Linked DNA regions of Homo sapiens. The protein of the gene in region 1 purifies or fractionates together with the protein of each later gene. This does not show direct contact. Each region holds a gene or a part of one and is shown on either strand. Other genes may lie near its edges.

Region 1 (5,585 bases):
GCCACCTTGCCTCCAGGAGCTTCGGTTTGTGAAGGTTTGTGACAGTGTGTGTACAACACTTCATCTACAGTTGGTCCTCGAGAAGTGGCAGCAGTCCCCATTTTTATCAGACACATAAAGACACCTTTCTTATTAGACACAAAAGAAATGGAACACAAAATGTCCATACCTCAGAAGAGAAAATCTGGTTGAGATGACCTTAATATGAGCTAGAACAAAGAATTAAAAGAACAGTATAAAGGCAAGTCACAAATAAGCACAAAAGTGTTAACAGTAAGTGCTATAGGAGTTTATGCCAAAAGATCCGCATGCACTGGGAATTTGTCAAAAAACATTAATTTGTGCTGCATTTTAAGAAAGGTGTAGACTTCAGTTCTGAAAGGGGTGGGGTGGAGGATGGGAAGACGTTCTAGGCTGAGAAGATCTTGAAGCAGGAAAGGGGAGGAGAGCAGCTTGGCTGAAGTGGAAGGTCCATGCCTGGGAGAAAGAAAGTTGGACTAGGGTGGGGTGAGCCTCAGATGCAGCTAGAACCTGTTTTATCTTCAAATAATAGGGTGCTGGGCTGGGCACTGTGGCTCATGCCTGTAATCCCAGCGACTCAGGAAGCTGGGGTGGGAGAACTGCTTGAGGCCAGGATTTCAAGACCAGCCTGGGCAACACAGCGAGACCCCATCTCTGAAAAAGTAAGAAATATTAGCTGGGCATGTTGGTGCACACCCATAGTCACAGCTGCTTGGGAGGCTGAGGTAAGAGGATCACTTGGGCCCAGGTGTTTGAGGCTGCAATGAGTCATTATCGTCCCATTGCACTCCAGCCTGGGAGACAGAGCAAGACCCTGACTCAATTAAAAATAAATAAATAGGAGCTATTGATGGTTCTTGAGTAGAAAAGTAAAGAGTGCCACAATGAAGGTGAAAGCAGTATCACAGTGTGATAAGTAGACAGGGGTCTGGAATCAATGGACTGATAGAAGAAACTGGGAGTACCTCTGATTGTGGAAGTCCACGTGTGATGGAATCAAGGCTCAGGCCAGACAGGAACCCAAATTATCTGCTTAAATGATTCACAAATGAGAATCACTTTGGGAGCTTTAAAGATGAGAACACGTTCGTGGGCCTTGCCCCCATTTGTGCATTTTCTCAACGTTTCCCAGGAGCTGATGATGCAGCACAGGCGTGGGAGCTTTAAACTAGTCCAACTCTTACACAAAGGGCAAATTTTCTTAGCGGACTAAGAAATGTAACTCAAAGAGGTTAAGTGACTGAACCAAAGTCACACTCCTAGTTAGTGACAGAGGAGAACCTAAGTTGGACCCTCCCGTCTGGACCCCGGGCTCCTTCCTCTAGGCTGGACCATTGCAGCACCCGACAGGGGCAACACTCCAGCGGAATCCCCTGCAACCTGCCCTTAGGCTGAGGCTTCCCTAGAGGGCCTTCCCTGTTTCTCCAGAGCCAGTGTTCACTAGTTCCCCAGACCCTGTAAACTCCATCGTGGTCTTCCTAAATGGGACTTCTCCTCAGGCTGTCCAGCAGGAAAGAAGGGAGTAGCAGGAATACGTGGGTACCCTGGTTCCGTGGCCACTAGAGGTAAGGTGGGCTGGGGGTAGGGGTTAGAGAGCAAGAGAAGCAGCCCAGGTGAGATGTCAAAGATCAAGTTTTCAAGGCCACCAGGGAAGGAGGCTCTAGTCCTAAGGTTAAAGTCAGCCAGGGCTCAGTTTGGGAAGCTCAGGTGTGTGGTGAGAAAGCTGCTGAGCTGCGGCCAGTTTGCAGTACCAAGGAGAGCTGCTGGACCAGAGATGGAGACTGAGGTCCCAGAAAGGCACTGCTGGAGCAGGAAGATCTGGGCCAGCCACCAAAGGGATGTGAACCTGGAGCGAAGCAGGAGGACTGAAACTTGGGCAACCTTCCTCTTCAGGGGTGCTGGAGGGCTCCTGGGCACATCCAGGCCGGGGAAGAAGCCCCCGGGAGCCGTGTGGTGTTCACACGCATCACAGGTTCAGGAGAATGCAGGAGGGGGCCTGAGAAGAGCTGCGGATTTGGTCACTCCCGGGAAGCGTTAGGTAGAGTGGAGAGCAGAGCCAGACCGCGGGGCTCCAGGAAGTGGAGATCCTGTGGTTAAATAGACGTTGCCGCACGTGGAGCTCAATAGACAATTCTTGTTTTGACTTTCCAGGAGAGGAGTGGATGATTCGGAAGGTGAAGGTGGAGGACGAAGATCAGGAGGCAGAAGAGGAGGTCGAATGGCCCCAGCATCTATCGTTACTTCCCAGCCCCTTTCCCGCGCCTGACCTGGGGCATCTGGCTGCCGCGTACAAACTGGAGCCAGGGGCCCCGGGGGCACTGAGTGGGCTCGCGCTGTCTGGGTGGGGTCCGATGCCGGAGAAGCCCTACGGCTGCGGGGAGTGTGAGCGGCGCTTCCGGGACCAGCTGACGTTGCGACTGCACCAGCGGCTGCACCGGGGCGAGGGCCCCTGCGCCTGCCCGGACTGCGGCCGCAGCTTCACGCAGCGCGCCCACATGCTACTGCATCAGCGCAGCCACCGCGGCGAGCGGCCTTTCCCGTGCTCCGAGTGCGACAAGCGCTTCAGCAAGAAGGCCCATCTGACCCGCCACCTGCGCACGCACACGGGCGAGCGGCCCTACCCGTGCGCGGAGTGCGGCAAGCGCTTCAGCCAGAAGATCCACCTGGGCTCGCACCAAAAGACCCACACCGGCGAGCGGCCCTTCCCCTGCACGGAATGCGAGAAGCGCTTTCGCAAGAAGACGCACTTGATTCGGCACCAGCGCATCCATACGGGCGAGAGGCCCTACCAGTGCGCACAGTGCGCACGCAGCTTCACGCACAAGCAGCACTTGGTGCGGCACCAAAGGGTGCACCAGACGGCCGGCCCGGCCAGGCCCTCTCCCGACTCGTCCGCTTCTCCTCATTCCACTGCCCCGTCCCCGACCCCATCCTTTCCCGGGCCAAAGCCTTTCGCGTGCTCCGACTGCGGCTTGAGCTTCGGCTGGAAAAAGAACCTCGCCACGCACCAGTGTCTGCACCGCAGCGAGGGTCGCCCCTTTGGGTGCGATGAGTGCGCACTGGGCGCCACCGTGGATGCCCCCGCCGCCAAGCCCCTGGCCAGCGCGCCTGGCGGACCGGGCTGCGGCCCAGGATCCGATCCCGTGGTGCCCCAGCGCGCCCCCTCGGGCGAGCGGTCCTTCTTCTGCCCGGACTGCGGGCGCGGCTTCTCCCATGGGCAGCACCTGGCGCGGCACCCGCGCGTGCACACGGGCGAACGGCCCTTCGCCTGCACGCAGTGTGACCGCCGCTTCGGCTCGCGGCCTAATCTGGTCGCCCACTCCAGGGCCCACAGCGGCGCCAGGCCTTTCGCCTGCGCTCAGTGCGGCCGCCGCTTCAGCCGCAAGTCGCACCTGGGCCGCCACCAGGCGGTGCACACTGGCAGCCGCCCCCACGCCTGCGCCGTCTGCGCCCGCAGCTTCAGCTCCAAAACCAACCTAGTCCGCCACCAGGCGATCCACACAGGCTCCCGCCCCTTCTCCTGCCCGCAGTGCGGAAAGAGCTTCAGCCGCAAGACCCACCTGGTGCGGCACCAGCTCATTCACGGCGAAGCCGCCCACGCGGCCCCGGACGCCGCCCTTGCGGCCCCAGCCTGGTCCGCTCCCCCCGAGGTGGCGCCGCCCCCGCTCTTCTTCTGAGCCTAGTTCTCACGAGGACCCTTTCTTGCCCACAGTTTCGAGAGGCCCGTGCCATGAGACCGCCTGGGGTGAGCAAGGCGACCTGGGCTGCTGCCCGAAGGTTTGGCCGCCGCGGGACACCTGTTTCCTTCCCGCAGTGTCTGCGTCCGCACAGCATACCCAGCTCGGACCTCCTAGGACAGAGACTCAGCGAACCCTTGCTGGGAACCGCTGAGCTGAAGTTCTTGGAAGGCTCCCACCCAGGTGCCCCGTTGGAAAGCAGATATTTCCCGGACCCAGCGCGGCCTCAACCAGGGCAGGAAAGAGTGGTTATTTATGTACTTAAAGTTTCATTAAAGTTAAAATCGGAAAGTTCTGGGGCTGCTAAATGAATTGGGGGAGGGAACACCTGACTCTCCTTAGCCACTGTCCCACCTCCATCCACACACAGACCACCCCCCTCCACTTCCCCTTCTGTCCTGGGTGAGTTACATTTAGCCAGCTGCTGTTAATTGGTTCTCCCAAATAAAAATGTAATATATTTATTCACTAAGCCACCATCCTGGCTCCTGCTTCTAGCTCGGAAGTATAAGGAAGGAAGATTGGGGTGCATTTCTCTCACGCCACGTGTCACCGACTAGAGCTGAAGGGGGGCAGGCCGTCCTTTGGCGTGGGCTTGGGAGCTCTGTGTGGTCTCCGCAACTCTCCTGGGGGATTCGGAGCTCGGTGGCGTGAGGAAGGAGGTGGCACATCCACTGCAGATGAAGGTTGCTTTCACATCGCACTTGCAACAAGTCCTTTCTTAAGGCTGCTGGGTCCAGAAGTCTCTGTATTGCCCTTCTCCAGCCCACGCAGGTATGAGAGCTAGGGCTGCCTGGCCGTGAACGGGGAGGGTAGGACGATGGGGAGCCTATGGAGCTTGCAGTGAGTAGTCTTGGGTTTGACCCCCCTCTGCCTCTCGTGGGACTTGGAGCGCAGCATTATTCATTTCCCAGTGAGCGGGGATGAGAGGCCAGAGCAGTGGCCTGAGAGATGAAGGGGTCTTTCACACCTGTGAAGCAGTTTAGACCGTGTCCAAGGGAGGGGGAACCATGGCAAGGTTAGGCGGGGCAGGAACAGGGCCACGCTCACATTCCTGAAGTTTGGAAAGATGTTTGGCTAGACAACTCGGGAGCGAAATTGGAGGCCTGCGCATCAGTTGTCCTGGTGACAGGTTGTGGTGACCTGGGACCATAGTTGTGTCAGAGGAGACAGAGAAGTGATGGATTCAAGAGACACTTAATAGGCAGAGGATACAGGACCTGTTGACTAGTGTGGGTCGGGGAATCAATGAGCTCAGCCCGATTTCTGTTTGACACTGACTGGATGACAGTGGCATACTCCCAGAAGGGAGACTCGGTGTTGGGGGCAGCTTTGTGCTGGGGGAGTAGTCCTGGGTCTCCTGAGTTGTGAGCAGTGTGTGCCCAGCAGGAAGGAGGCTGTGTGGGTGGAGAGCTCAGGAGAGGGCCAGGCTGCAGACATACAGCTGAGAACTATCCGCATGTGCTTCTGAAGCTATGGGGGAGCGGATGATCTTCCCAAAGAACTGAGTGTGGAGTGAGAAATTGGGGGCCTGGGACAGAAGCCTCTGGGACACCAACATTAGGGGATGGCACCGAGAGAGGCCTGTAAACAAGATTGGAGAGTGCAGGTGCAAGGACTGGACAGGAAAGCCCCAGGTAGAGGTGATAGAGGAGCCGAGGAAAGACGCGCTTCAGGGAGGAGGAGGCCGCTGGAGGCTAGAGAGAGGTCACCTAGGCGAAGGGCTTCCAAACCCTTTGGATGTCGCTGCAAGCAAATCCAGTCTCGGTGACAGCAGCATCAGGAGCAGCTGGGTCAGAATTCAGATCACAATGGTGAACTACAAAA
Region 2 (4,565 bases), on another chromosome or scaffold:
GACTTAAAAACTAGAAGAGGACTATGGTAGGGTCTAAAAGGACATGGCTTCACTTCCATTGTTTTACTTTGTGCTGTGACAAAATCCACATCTACAGAAATCTCCTGCAAAAGAAAATAATAATTCTGTAAGGCAAATAAGGCTGGGTGAATTCCAGATTTTAAAGAAAATATGAAATGTTCAGTTACCTGACCATGCAAAACCTTCTCTGTAATGCCTGTGGTGGTTTTTAAAATCAGCTGTTTTAGGCTGTCAGCTTTTGAATACAATTTTTGCAATTCACCAATTTTTAACCCTAGAAAAAGTTCTGGTTTTTCTACAGTATTTTTATTAAGTTTGTTTATGCATTCTTTGTTAGCAGTATCAGTGTGCTTAAGGTTAGGTTTAGTAAAATAATTGGATTCTAAAAAAGATCTTCTTCGCTCTCTGCTTGAACCAGACAAAATTTCATCATCAACATCATTTTCTTCAGTGTCCAGGGTTAATTTATCTTGTGTCAGATCATGAAGTGAGGGTTGAGGTAAAGAAAATTCGGGTTCCTCTTCCACAACTGGAGAGATATTTTGTTGTTCCTTTGCTTTAAGGGCACGGGCTTCTTTTAATTTTTGAATTTTCAGGGCATATTCATATTCTAGCTTTTGTAACCGTCTTTTCTCCATAGCAATTAGTTCTGCTGAATGCTTTCTTGGACTTGATACTGGAGAACTGTCCAGTCTCATCATTTTGTTTGGCTAAGGGAGAAAAATGATACACGTATTTTACATCACTGTGATTTTATAAACAATTTTTGGTAAGATAATTGTGCTATCCCCACCATACAATGCCAACATTATAAAACTAAATCAATATGGAGAATAAAACAGAGTTTAACATAAGTAGCCAAAAGTTTTGCTAGTTAATCTATGACTTATGACAAAAACAAAGTCAAGACAAAATAATAAAGTAGACATCCAAAAATGTGGATGTCATTTAAAAACAAAGCTTTAATCTTAATCTCTTGGAATTTACAGCAAAGAGTTACTTTATATATACATCTTACCCTTAAAACTATCATAAAAACTTTCTGCTTTCCAAAAGTAAAATATTTCTATAAAACCCTCACCCCAAAGCGATCTTGTTCCAGTTTACGTTTTCCTATTTCTTTACTGGCCACTGCCTTTGCCCGAGCAAGCTCTTCTCCATATTTTAGAGTCAAAGCTTTCTTAATTGTAACACGCTGTTGAACTCTGTGAATCTGAAAAATATAGAATAATCCTGAAAATGTAAATGAAAACCTTAAAACAGGAAATTTCTTCTTCTCAAACACCGTGGCTTTTGAGCATTCAACTGAAAATAAAAATATTCCAATATTATTTCTCAACAAGAAACTATAGGTTATGCATATTTTGCTGGCTTTAGTATACAGTGGTTTGTCTTACAGAAAATTTGGCCTATAAAAATGTGTAGTAAACAGGAGACTACAGTATTTTAAAATAATTACTTGTTCCTGAAGCTTCTTCAAAAACATTCTGTTAACATTAAGAATTTTTTCAGTTGCTTGAAGCTGTTCTGTAAGTTTTGTAATCTTTGCTTCAGCATTTCTAACAGATTCTTTCTTCTTAGCTTCTTGTTGCACTAAATTCTTTAAAACAGATTCATCTTTCATCAAGAGAATCCTAAATGAGAAATAACAAAATTCTTGTTAATGTTTCCCTACAAGAGCAGACTGTCAGAATAAAAAAATTTTCAAAGTAATAACACAATTTTTAAAAATGCATCTACGAGACACAGATAAAAATGTAAAGGGATGAATATTTTTATATTCATCACACAGGTATTTAAATTAACATTGCTACACTGATAATAGTAACTATGAGACTGATCTTTTAAAAAAAAAAATTTAAGCCTGAGGTAACGTGAATTACTGTTGAAAACTTGTAGTAAATATTCAACGTTGGGCCAGGCACAGTGGGAATGCATTTCCCTAGTTCAAGCGATTCTCCCGCCTCAGCCTCCCAAGTAGCTGGGATTACAAGGCATGCACCACCATGCCCAGCTAATTTTTTTGTATTTTTAGTAGAGACAGGGTTTCACCGTGTTGGCCAGGCTAGTCTCAAACTCCTGATCTCAAGTGATCCACCCACCTCGGCCTCTCAAATTGCTATGATTATAGGCGTGAGCCACCGCGCCTGGCCGGTATTTTTATTTAAACATTAATTTCATTACTTTATGTAAATGTAGTGTCATTCAACAAAATGACAGACTTCTACATTCTACAAAGTTTAAGTGAGAAAATGTATAATCTTATAGTACGCTTATTAATAACATACACCACAAAAATGTATTTCTCTACCACAGGAACAATTAGATATGTGAAGATAACAAGGCTCACCTATGTTTTTTCAGTTTTGATTCTGCATCTGTAACCTGCTTAGTAACCATTGCTATCCTGCCAATACCATCAATTTCCACATCAGAGTTTGCTGGGGATGATGAACTTGTCTTCAGCTGATCTGATTTAATCAAACGCTGTTTCTCACGGCTAAAATTATCAAAAAGGATATATGCATTACACCCAAGAATAAACTTAAACTATTTTTAAAATGTATTCTATTTCATGCAGTAACAATATTAATCACACCGACTAATAATAAAGATGATGACCAATATGCAAGACCCAAGTCAGCATTCAAAGTTGATAGTGGAGTCCTTCTCTTTGAGTGTTTTCATCTTTTTTCTAAGCTGGTTATGTCCTAGCACATCACTCTATTCAAGTGTATGTATGACCATCCAGCACCATCTTCTGTGTGAGTTATAAAACATTAACTCTGTATCTTGGATAAAACTATCATCACTCATTCCCCAGTGCCAAGAAACTCTATAAGAGAAGTTTTGAAAACATCACATACTTTTAATGTTAATTACATAAAATTACACTTACTTGGCAATCTCTTCCTTTAACAATCTATATTCAATCTTCTTTTCTTCAGGCAAAGCCTCCGGTGTTCGCAGAGGATCATTTTCTTTTTCAGATTTTGGAGGTACTTTCGGTTTTGAAGCTTGCTAAAAAAAAAAAAACATTTGAAGTCAACTAGATCATCAGCTTTCCAAAATTCCATACTAAGATTTATATTTTACATTGCAACCCAGTGTATACTGAATTTATTTAGAAATACCTGAATGTCATCATTTTCTATTCTTTTTTCTAAAACAATGTTGGTTGATAACTACTAAATTGTATACGCCACCAAGTAGTGAAGATCTACAGTCTGAAAATCATTGAATTAAATCACAGCTAAACAACTACTGAAATAGGGAAAAAACGATAAAAGTTGTACTTAGAGAATACATTTTAATAAAAACTGTTTTCTGGTAACACAACACAACTCTAAAACAACAGTCTCCTTACTACACAGAACAATTATCCAACCAATTTTACTATTTTGAAAAAGGAAATACTTAATAGGAAACACAAATAATGGAAACTTTTAATAGTAAAATCAATCTACATTGATACATGCTTCATTATATAAAGTCCTAATAGCACAAATACTTAAAATATTTCCACAAATCAATGTTATTAAAAATCTATAACTTTATGGTTTAATTTTCAGGAAAAAATAAACTTTACTGATCATCAAAAGGTCATCTTTCTTTCCACCTTTAATTATTGCACTTACCTCAGCAGTTCGTCTTGCTTCTTTAATCATGGACTCTAATCCACCAAAAACACTATTTGTTGACTTGGAAGCCTCTCCATCAGATTCACTATCATCTGAATCATTTAGTGTTACAACCACTGATTTATGCTTTGGAAGCTGCAAAGACAATATATTTATTACTCGTGATAACAAAAGGATGTCATTTAACCTTGTTCAATTTCAATCCACAAAAATAATGGGCTCCAAGTAGACAGTCTATGGCTCCTTCTAGGGTTGTATTACATAATCCACTGAGTCGACCAATACTGGTTATATGACTGAGACATAAAATGTTGTATATTCTTTAAGACTTTCTATTCTATAATTACTCTCATTAAAATTTTATTTTCACTAACTTTCTATTATAAAGAACCACAATGCAATTTAAATTAACTCTTTTAAAACCAAAGAAAAATTTTGTTAATTTTACATAATAATTATCAAAATTCTGTACTTTGTGGTTACATATAGAGGGTAAATTGCCAAAACTGGCTTACCTAACAGGAAAGATTTCAACTTGTCTTTGTTCTATTTATTTTACTTTGAAGCCATTACAAAACAAGGTAGAAACAAACTATCATTTCAACCTCCTTAATAAACATCATAAATAATTTCTTCCATCATAGTGTAGTCATTGGTTGGAAAACATACACAAAGTATACAAAGAGATGGGAGAAATAAAAAACATGCAATTTGTTAAAATTTTGACTCCAAAAAGATAGAAAATCTGAATGAGCCCATTTCTATAGAAAAAAAGCTGAAGAAATGTCAGAGGAAAGTACACCACTCTGATGAAAACAATACCTCCCCCAACACACTATCACCAAACTCTTACCAGTTTTCAAGTGAAGGTGTTGCTCTCATTTTATCATTAATAAATTAAAA
Region 3 (4,157 bases), on another chromosome or scaffold:
GTATTATTAACATGGTAGAAGAGAATTTTTCAGAAATATATGTAATCTTTGCTGTTTGGGGGGTAAAATTAATGCTTGTCTCCCTGAGGAATATGGAAAATAATCAGATTTTAGGGGTTTAAATAATATTTTTAAATTGTAAATGGGATTTTTTTATTCACCCAGGCACCTAATTACAACAAGCATGCACATTTTGGTGCATTCAAGAATGGAAAATCAGAATAGCAGCATTGATTCTTCTGGTGGGTTTTGCTCCATTTAAAGACATGAAATGAACTACAGCCAGGAAGGTGATAGATGATATAATAAGCCACCTCTGAACCTACACCCCGTCTCTTCACGGTTTAGACTTACTAAAATAAATACAAGGTGATTTTCATCTTCAGGTAGAGTGAAGCCTTTTAATTAAGGCGTCACAGGTGCAGCTATTCTACCTTAATGAAATGGGTAGTGATTTTCCCACCATTATTTATTTCGGTGATAATATGCTGCATATTCAAGTCTCTTGTAGTTATTTTCACCCAAAGTAGTTGACAATTTGATGCTTCTGGTGATGTTTATGGCTTCATTTTATGTAATTTTTTAAGTAAGTTCCACTAGAAACAGTTCATCTTATACCTTCAAAACTGTTACCTGTTCTTTAAAAAACAAAGTTGCTTGTTACTTGTTCTTTGTGTTTTAGGTGCAGCTCAGTGGAAGATGATGACAACCAGAAGACATGAGCTAAGGTTTCTGTCCTATAAAAGATTTATTAAAAAACAATCCTTCATTTATTTTTTGTCTAATTTTTTAGTTTTCAGCATTATGATTTGGGTTTTATTGGTGTTTGGTATTTAGAATTAGTGCTGTTGTGGAGTGCGTCTGTAAAGTGCTTGTTTTATCATACTTCCTGCCTCTCCCCTCCCCCAGTTTCTCCTCCCCTAAAATAAAAATAGTGGTCAACTTTAGTAATATAAAAGGCTGCTGGATGCTGAGATTCCACATAACACATGGTTGTCAAAATTGGATGTTAAGGATTCTTAGAAAAACAGCAACCACCAGAATAGCATATATCTGAAAGTAGTCTTCAGCTTTAGGCAGATGCAAAAGAATACAAACTGGAATATTAAGAATACTGTTCAACTCCTTTAGTATCTGTTCCCCAACTTACCCTGTAGAAACCTCGTTATTAACCAGTGTTCCAGTCTTAAAGTAGACAAAATATTCAGAGCCATTTTTTTTAAGGGAAATGAAAAAGATACTCTGGGTTTTTTATACTCCCCAATTTAGCATATCTAGACTACCTATTTGAAAGGAACCCTATCAACTGTCTTATGTACGTTACATGATTTTCCTACACTCTGTAATTTTGCTGAGGTGCAATTTGGAACTCTGCAAGACCTACTAGATTGAATTTATTTAGTGAATGCTCCTGAATAAATGTGCATTCCTCTTTTAGAGTAGCTGTATGCTTTTCAAATGCTATCTGCCGTGAATTTTTTGCTTTTATTATACTTTATGGCAAAAGTGATATCAAGTGATTGTCAGACTTGAGGGCTCATAGAAGTGTTAGGTACGGCTCTCAAAGATGTTACAGTTTTTTCTAGGGTTGGGAGAATAGTTGAGATCTGGAAAGCATAGACATTTTTTACACTCTGGATAGACTTTATTCTTGAAGATCATCAGAAATGAGGTTGGAATTTCGAGGTTTTGAGCAGGGGGAGCATCTTATATTCACCCTTAAATCGTTATTAATACATCCTGTTTTCTTCATTCCCTGATAGCTATCTCATTTCACTCTACTGTCTCAAAATTTTGTTTTAAAATAATAGAAATGTTTTGCCATTATTAAGTACCACTTTATTCCTAACAAAAATAAGTACTCAGGACTTTTTTTTCAAAATGAAATATTTATGTACTGTTTTATGGTATGTGGTAGAGTAAGTAAAATGTAATGTTCTCAGTTTTGTTCCATATTTGCATTCCTCTTATGCTTTACCTGTATTTTATCATTTGTAAGCAGAACTCTAGCTATATGGGGTAGAAATAAAATCTCTGAGATGAAACAAAGGAATCAACATGATAAAATTTAGGCGAAGTAGTTAAGAAATGGCCCTTTTGAATGTTGAAGATAGGAAAGAAAGCCATATATTCAAATATGTAATTTTCCTCATTTAGTTATAATGACATCTTTACCAATTGGGCTTCATAAATGTGTTTCTTTCTTAATAGTATCCTAGTTCCAGCATATATTCAACATGAATTTTATCATTCTCCTCCTAATGGAATGTCTTCCTTATAGAAATGTTCACGACAAATTCATTTGTGTTTTTTACATGTCAATAATGTATGCTAAATTAAAATGTTTTCCAGTTATTCTGATAGATGTCATTATGGCATCCTTAATTTTTCTTCTCCTTCTGTATATAGGGTAAGGGACTGTTCTGAAGAACCTTTCCATTTAGTGATCAAGATATGGAAGCTGATTTCTGAAAATGCTCAGTGTGTACTCTAATTATTTATGGTACCATTTGAATTGTAACTTGCATTTTAGCAGTGCATGTTTCTAATTGACTTACTGGGAAACTGAATAAAATATGCCTCTTATTATCATATTGTCTCCTGGTTTTTTTCTTTGGTTGAGTTCAGATTTTCCTCACAAACATCAAAACATTTTCAAAGCATTAGGTGCACAACACCAAAGAGTGTATTATATTCGTGTTCCTGTTACATACATTTCTGCTTTGGTTTTCCTAGTAAAGGAAACAGATAAGTAATGAGCCAACTCCTGTTTTTATAATGATAAAAATAAATTGGTTCATTGCTCACATGATAGCTTGACAAATCTTGGGCTCTTATCCTCAGTATACCCACTCTTTATTTTCTTCTTTTAAGGAACTGTTTTTGGCTTTTCAAAACAGTGAGTAAAATAGATTCACAGTGTAGTTTGTGAATCTTAGTGCATGCAAAGCAGATAAGGCAGGCAGAATGGCCTTGTAGAATGCACCCACCCACCCCATTGGAGCTAACCACCGCAGAGTGGCAGGTAGAAGCTAGTATGCTTGATTCTGGGCTGAGAAATGGTCAAATGGCACTGGCTCTGGATAGTCTTCATGTAAAGGCCCCAGTTATAATTTTGTTAGACTGCATAACTATCTAAAGTGGCTATGAGGTTATTGTATCTGGTACATTTTAGGGAAAATAGTATGCAGGATGTATTGGTTAAGGACCTTTCACACATACTTTTTTTCTTTCTTTTTTTCTTTTTTTTGAGACGGACTCGCCGTCTATCGCCAGGCTGGAGTGCAGTGGCACGATCACAGCTCGCCTCCGCCTCCTGACCTCAGGTGATCCACACGCCTGAGCCTCCCAAAGTGCTGGGATTACAGGCATGAGCCACCACACCCGGCCACACATACTTTCTCTAATTAGAAAGATTCAACCTCATGAAGATCCAGTGAGCTGAGGACCATCAATGACTGGAGAGCTAAACATGGGTATTTATCAGCAAACTAGGTTTTCCCGAACAGAATTTATATGTGTGTTATAAACTGCCAAATGTTTTCTTATTTAAAGATAATGGTGGGCGTTGACTTCCACCAAGTATGAAAAATAGCCAAATATTTTGTATTCATGTCTCCAGTTTTGTCCACTACATATGTAGACAAGTGGGTCCCACTTCACCTGTTTGAACCAGGTCTTTTTCCCCTGTCAGTCTACAGGATAAATTTGAGATGATACATCTCTAATCCCTACAAAACTTGCCACTTCTGGTCTCAGTCCCATCTCCCATGCCCATTCCCACGCCTAGTCTTACTGAAAGGGTTTGTGTCTGTTGCACCGTACCATTTCCCTGTGCCTTGGCACATGCCCTGCAAGAAACAGGACATTGTTAGGAATTATTGTTCTGCACCTAACTAGTGCTAAGGAGGTCCATTCTCGAGATGGTTTGCCCTCCTGTGTCATTCTTACTTCCCTAATGTATTTTGTGAATACTTGTATATGCCAGGCACTTTTGCTGCTGGTCATTTAACCCGCACATGATTATATGAGATAAAGACAGTCTACCCACTTTACCCATCAGAAAAGTGAAGCAAGAGAGGTTAAGGAAACTGCTAAAGGTGTTAGGTGTTCAGTGGCAGGAGTCTGGGTTCGAATTTAGACAGCCTAGCGACAGA
Region 4 (4,565 bases), on another chromosome or scaffold:
TACTTCTTACAGTTGTCAGTGGGCCTGCTTCTACCACTGATCTCCGTACTTATACTTTGTATGGACTAAAAAGTCACTTTGGCTGTAAGCCACTTTTTGCTTACTTGTTGAGTTTTGTCTATGTTATGATTAACTATGGTAACATCAAGTAAGTTACATGTGTAAAGTAAATAGTTACGTCACAATAGCAAGGAAGGCAATCTTCCTTTTTAAAAAAATTGTTAGAGATTAAAGAATTTCAAAACTTCATTATCTCTAACTAAAAATAGCTCTTTCTGCCTGGACGCTGAAATTACCTCATATGTCTCTTAATAAGATGACTGGAAGGGGAATAATTAAAATAGCAACTATTACTGGCTACTGGGATTATGCCAGGCTCTTTACATCCATTTCTATCCATCTTTGCAATATCCACAGAAGAGAACTATTATTCCCATGCTGCAGATGAGAAAGTTGAAGCTAAAAAAGGTTTAACAGCAAGCTTAAGGTCACAAAGCTAGTAGGTGGCATATCTGAGATTTGGTCACTAGACTATTTGATGCTCAATCCCATGAACTTTCCACTATGCCAATGAAGTATGGAAATAACCAGTGTTTACCTATAAGAAAACCCAAAGGTTAGGAGGCCAAGGCAGGTGAATCACCTGAGTTCAGGAGTTCGAGACCAGCCTGGACAACATGATGAAACCCAGTCTCTATTAAAAATACAAAAAATTAGCTGGGCATGGTAGCGGGCGCCTGTAATTCCAGCTACTCGTCAGGCTGAGGCAGGAGAATCGCTTGAGCCTGGGAGGTGGAGCTTGCAGTGAGCCGAGATCACGCCACTGCACTCCAGCCTGGGCACCAGGAGCGAAACTCTTGTCTCAAAAAACAAACAAACAAAAAACCAAAGGCAATACTAACAATACAATGACTTACTTTCTCTCTCCAAAAATTCCTCAAAACAACCACATAATTTAATGGTTAAGAAGAATCCTGAAACTTCCTACTCCGACAAAGATGGAGTCTAAGGGACCAGGCATATTCTCCTACCTTAAACCAATTTAAAAAACAGAGAAAATAGATGAAACAAAATTTTCAGACATTAGACAACAAAAAGCACAGGAAAACCTACAGATCCAAGAAGCTCAATGAATTCTACACACAAGAAACACGAACAAAGCTACTGTAAGCACATCATGATGAAATTGCTCAAAAACAGTAGAAAGTATCAAAAGCAGCCAGAGAAAAAAGAACAAAGGTAAGGATGAAAAAAGATTTGTCAGAAACTTTTTGCAATGCAAAAAGTTTGTCAGAAACAATGCAAGTGAGAAAATGGCGGAGCAACTTTTTTAGAGTAATAAAACAAAATACTGCCACAATATTTTCCAAAAATGAAGGCAAAAATGAAGGCTTTTTCAGTCTTCAGTCTATAGTAATAAATACAGGTGGCTGTTGGTGAAACAATAGACCTATAGATAAATAGAACAGAATTGGAAGTTCAGAAATAAACCGACACACATAAAACCAACTGATTTTTGACAATAGTACTAAGGCAATTCAATGAGGAAAAGACAGTATTTTCAAAAAATGGTGTTAAAAAAAGAACCTAAACCTTACCTCACACTATATGCAAGAATTAGCTCAAAATGTATCAAAGACCTAAATGTAAAAGCTAAAATTATAAAATAATTTTATATTATTTATATATTATATATTTATATATATACATAATTATATATTTATATATATAAATATATATTAAATTATATATTTATATATATATTAAATTATATATTTATATATATATTAAATTATATATTTATATATATATATTAAATTATATATTTATATATATATTAAATTATATATTTATATATATATATTAAATTATATATTTATATATATAAACATATATTAAATTATATATTTATATATATAAATATATATTAAATTGTATATTTATATATATAAATATATATTAAATTGTATATTTATATATATAAATATATTATTAAATTATATATTTATATATATAAATATATATTAAATTATATATTTATATATATAAATATATATTAAATTATATATATAAATATATATTAAATTATATATTTATATATATATTAAATTATATATTTATATATATAAATATATATTAAATTATATATTTATATATATATTAAATTATATATTTATATATAAATATATATATATTAAATTATATATTTATATATATAAATATATATTAAATTATATATTTATATATATAAATATATATTAAATTATATATTTATATATAAATATATATTAAATTATATATTTATATATATATTAAATTATATATTTATATATATAAATATATATTAAATTATATATAAATAAAACAAATTTTTAGTGATCTTGGTTTGGCAAATATTTTAAAAATAAGACATAAAAAGCATAAAGTCTAGAAGAAAAAACTGATAAATTGCACTTCATAAACATGAAACTTCTGTTCTTCAAAGACATTGTTAAGAAAATAAAAAGGTAAGCCACAGCTGAGAAAACATTTGTAAAATCTGTATCTGACAAAGCCTCACATCTGAACCATATAAATATCTCTTAAAATTCAATAAGACAAAAAAAGTAAAAGTACTAAAAATATTTGAACAAATAATTCCCCAAAGAAGATACAAAGATGGCAAATAAGCACATCGTATGTCCAGTATTATTATCTATTAGGGAAATGCAAATAAAAACCACAAGAGGATACCATTACATATTCACTAGGATGGCTAAAATTAAAAAGACTGACCATACCAAGTCTGAGCAAGCATGTGGAGCAATGGGAGCTCTGAAATACAGCTGGTGGGAATGTAATATGGCACAGTCATCTTATAAAACAATTTGGTATTTCTGTAAAAAGTATAATATACGTCTACCACAGGACCCGGATATTCTACACAGGACCCGGATATTCTACTCCTAGGTCTTTACTCAAGAGAAATGGAAGTGTGTATCCACACAAACACTTGCATATGAATGTTCATAAAAGCTTTATTACAGTATAAGAGCCAAAAAAGGGAAAAACCCAAAGTCTATCAACAGGTGAATAGATTCACAAATTTGGTATATTCAGAAAATGGAATGCTATTCAGCAATAAAAAGGAGCAAACTACTGATAAACACCTCAACATGGATGAACTGCAAAATAATTATGCTAAGTAAAAGATACCAGACCAAAAAAAAAGTACATATTGTATGATTCCATTTATATAAAATTCTGAAAAATAAAAAATAATCTACAGTGACAGCAGATTAGTGGTTGTCTGAGATAGATAAAGGGGGAAGGAAGGGACAGATTACAAAGAAACATGAGGAATCCTGAGGACGATGAGTGTTTATTTTCTTGATTGTGATAATGGTTTCATGCAATCACATATATGTCAAAACTCAGTTAACTGGACGCGGTGGCTCTTGCCTGTAATCCCAGCATCTTGGGAGACTGAGGTGGGCAGATTGCTTAAGCCCGGGAGTTTGAGACCACCATGTAGAAATGGTGAAATCCCATTTCTACAAAAAAATACAAAACTCAGCCAGGCATGGTGGTGTGCACCTGTAGTTCCACCTACTCAAGAGGCTGAAGTGGGAGGATTGCTTGAGCCCAGGAGGTCAAGGCTGCAGTGAGCTGTTGAGTTGTGCTTGTGTCACTGCACTCCAGCCTGGGTGACAGAGTGAGACCATGTCTCAAACACATACACACACACACACACACACACACACACACATATACACACAGACAAATCCTCAGTAATTTGTACACTTTAAGTATGTGCAGTTTACTGAGCATCAACTGTATCTCAACAAAGCTGTAAAACAAAGTGTATTAGCTCGTTTTCATGCTGCTGCTCATAAAGACATTCCCGAGACTGGGCAATTTACAAAAGAGGTTTAGACTCACAGTTCCACATGGCTGGGGGAGGCCTCACAATCATGACGGAAGGCAAGTAGGAGCAAGTCACATCCTACGTGGATGGCAACAGGCAAAGAGAGAGCTTGTGCAGGTAAACTCCCATTTTTAAAACCATCAGATCTTGTGAGACCCATCCACTATCATGAGAACAGCACAGGAAAGACCCACCCCCATGATTCAATCATCTCCCACTGAGTCCCTCCCACAACACATGGGAATTACGGGAGCTACAAGAGGAGATTTGGGTGAGGACACAGAGCCAAACCATATCACAAAGTATTTACTGTGATAAACTCTCCATAAATATTAGCTATTATTATTTTTAATATATGAAGCCTTTAAAACAGTGCTGTGCAATTGCAATCTTTTGGCTTCCCTCGGCCACACTGGAAGAAGAACTGTCCTGGGCCACACATAAAATACACTAACGATAGCAGATGAGCTTAAAAAAAATGCAAAACAAATTTCATAATGTTTTAAGAAAGTTTAAGAATTTGTGTTGGGCCGCAGGCAGCCCGTGGGCCGTGTGTTGCACAGGTTTGCTCTAAAATAAACAGAAAAAAAAAAAAAATGAGAGGAAATCTGTACTACTTCTCTGAAAGGGTACGAGTGATTTACGAATTTATCTCCAG

What was found. Proteins that work in one complex are often made in the same cells at the same time.
Region 2: the proteins of ZNF467 (region 1) and ZFC3H1 purify together in Homo sapiens (affinity purification with mass spectrometry; one large-scale study listed by BioGRID and IntAct). This does not show direct contact.
Region 3: the proteins of ZNF467 (region 1) and PRP4K purify together in Homo sapiens (affinity purification with mass spectrometry; one large-scale study listed by BioGRID and IntAct). This does not show direct contact.
Region 4: the proteins of ZNF467 (region 1) and TFB1M purify together in Homo sapiens (affinity purification with mass spectrometry; one large-scale study listed by BioGRID and IntAct). This does not show direct contact.

Annotation. Positions count from the first base shown.
Region 1 is NC_000007.14:149,762,827-149,768,411, reverse strand, and holds the end of ZNF467 (zinc finger protein 467), read left to right. Parts: intron 1-2,172; coding exon 2,173-3,698; 3' UTR 3,699-3,733; coding exon of another isoform or gene 3,734-3,912; 3' UTR 3,913-4,230; downstream 4,231-5,585. UniProt on the Homo sapiens protein: Transcription factor that promotes adipocyte differentiation and suppresses osteoblast differentiation in the bone marrow. Enhances the osteoclast-supporting ability of stromal cells.
Region 2 is NC_000012.12:71,631,784-71,636,348, forward strand, and holds part of ZFC3H1 (zinc finger C3H1 domain-containing protein), read right to left. Parts: intron 3,798-4,565; coding exon 3,660-3,797; intron 3,043-3,659; coding exon 2,921-3,042; intron 2,522-2,920; coding exon 2,372-2,521; intron 1,656-2,371; coding exon 1,481-1,655; intron 1,235-1,480; coding exon 1,103-1,234; intron 732-1,102; coding exon 189-731; intron 105-188; coding exon 1-104. UniProt on the Homo sapiens protein: Subunit of the trimeric poly(A) tail exosome targeting (PAXT) complex, a complex that directs a subset of long and polyadenylated poly(A) RNAs for exosomal degradation. The RNA exosome is fundamental for the degradation of RNA in eukaryotic nuclei.
Region 3 is NC_000006.12:4,062,392-4,066,548, forward strand, and holds the end of PRP4K (serine/threonine-protein kinase PRP4 homolog), read left to right. Parts: 3' UTR 1-2,592; downstream 2,593-4,157. UniProt on the Homo sapiens protein: Serine/threonine kinase involved in spliceosomal assembly as well as mitosis and signaling regulation. Connects chromatin mediated regulation of transcription and pre-mRNA splicing.
Region 4 is NC_000006.12:155,303,420-155,307,984, forward strand, and holds part of TFB1M (dimethyladenosine transferase 1, mitochondrial), read right to left. Parts: intron 1-4,565. UniProt on the Homo sapiens protein: Mitochondrial methyltransferase which uses S-adenosyl methionine to dimethylate two highly conserved adjacent adenosine residues (A1583 and A1584) within the loop of helix 45 at the 3-prime end of 12S rRNA, thereby regulating the assembly or stability of the small subunit of the mitochondrial ribosome.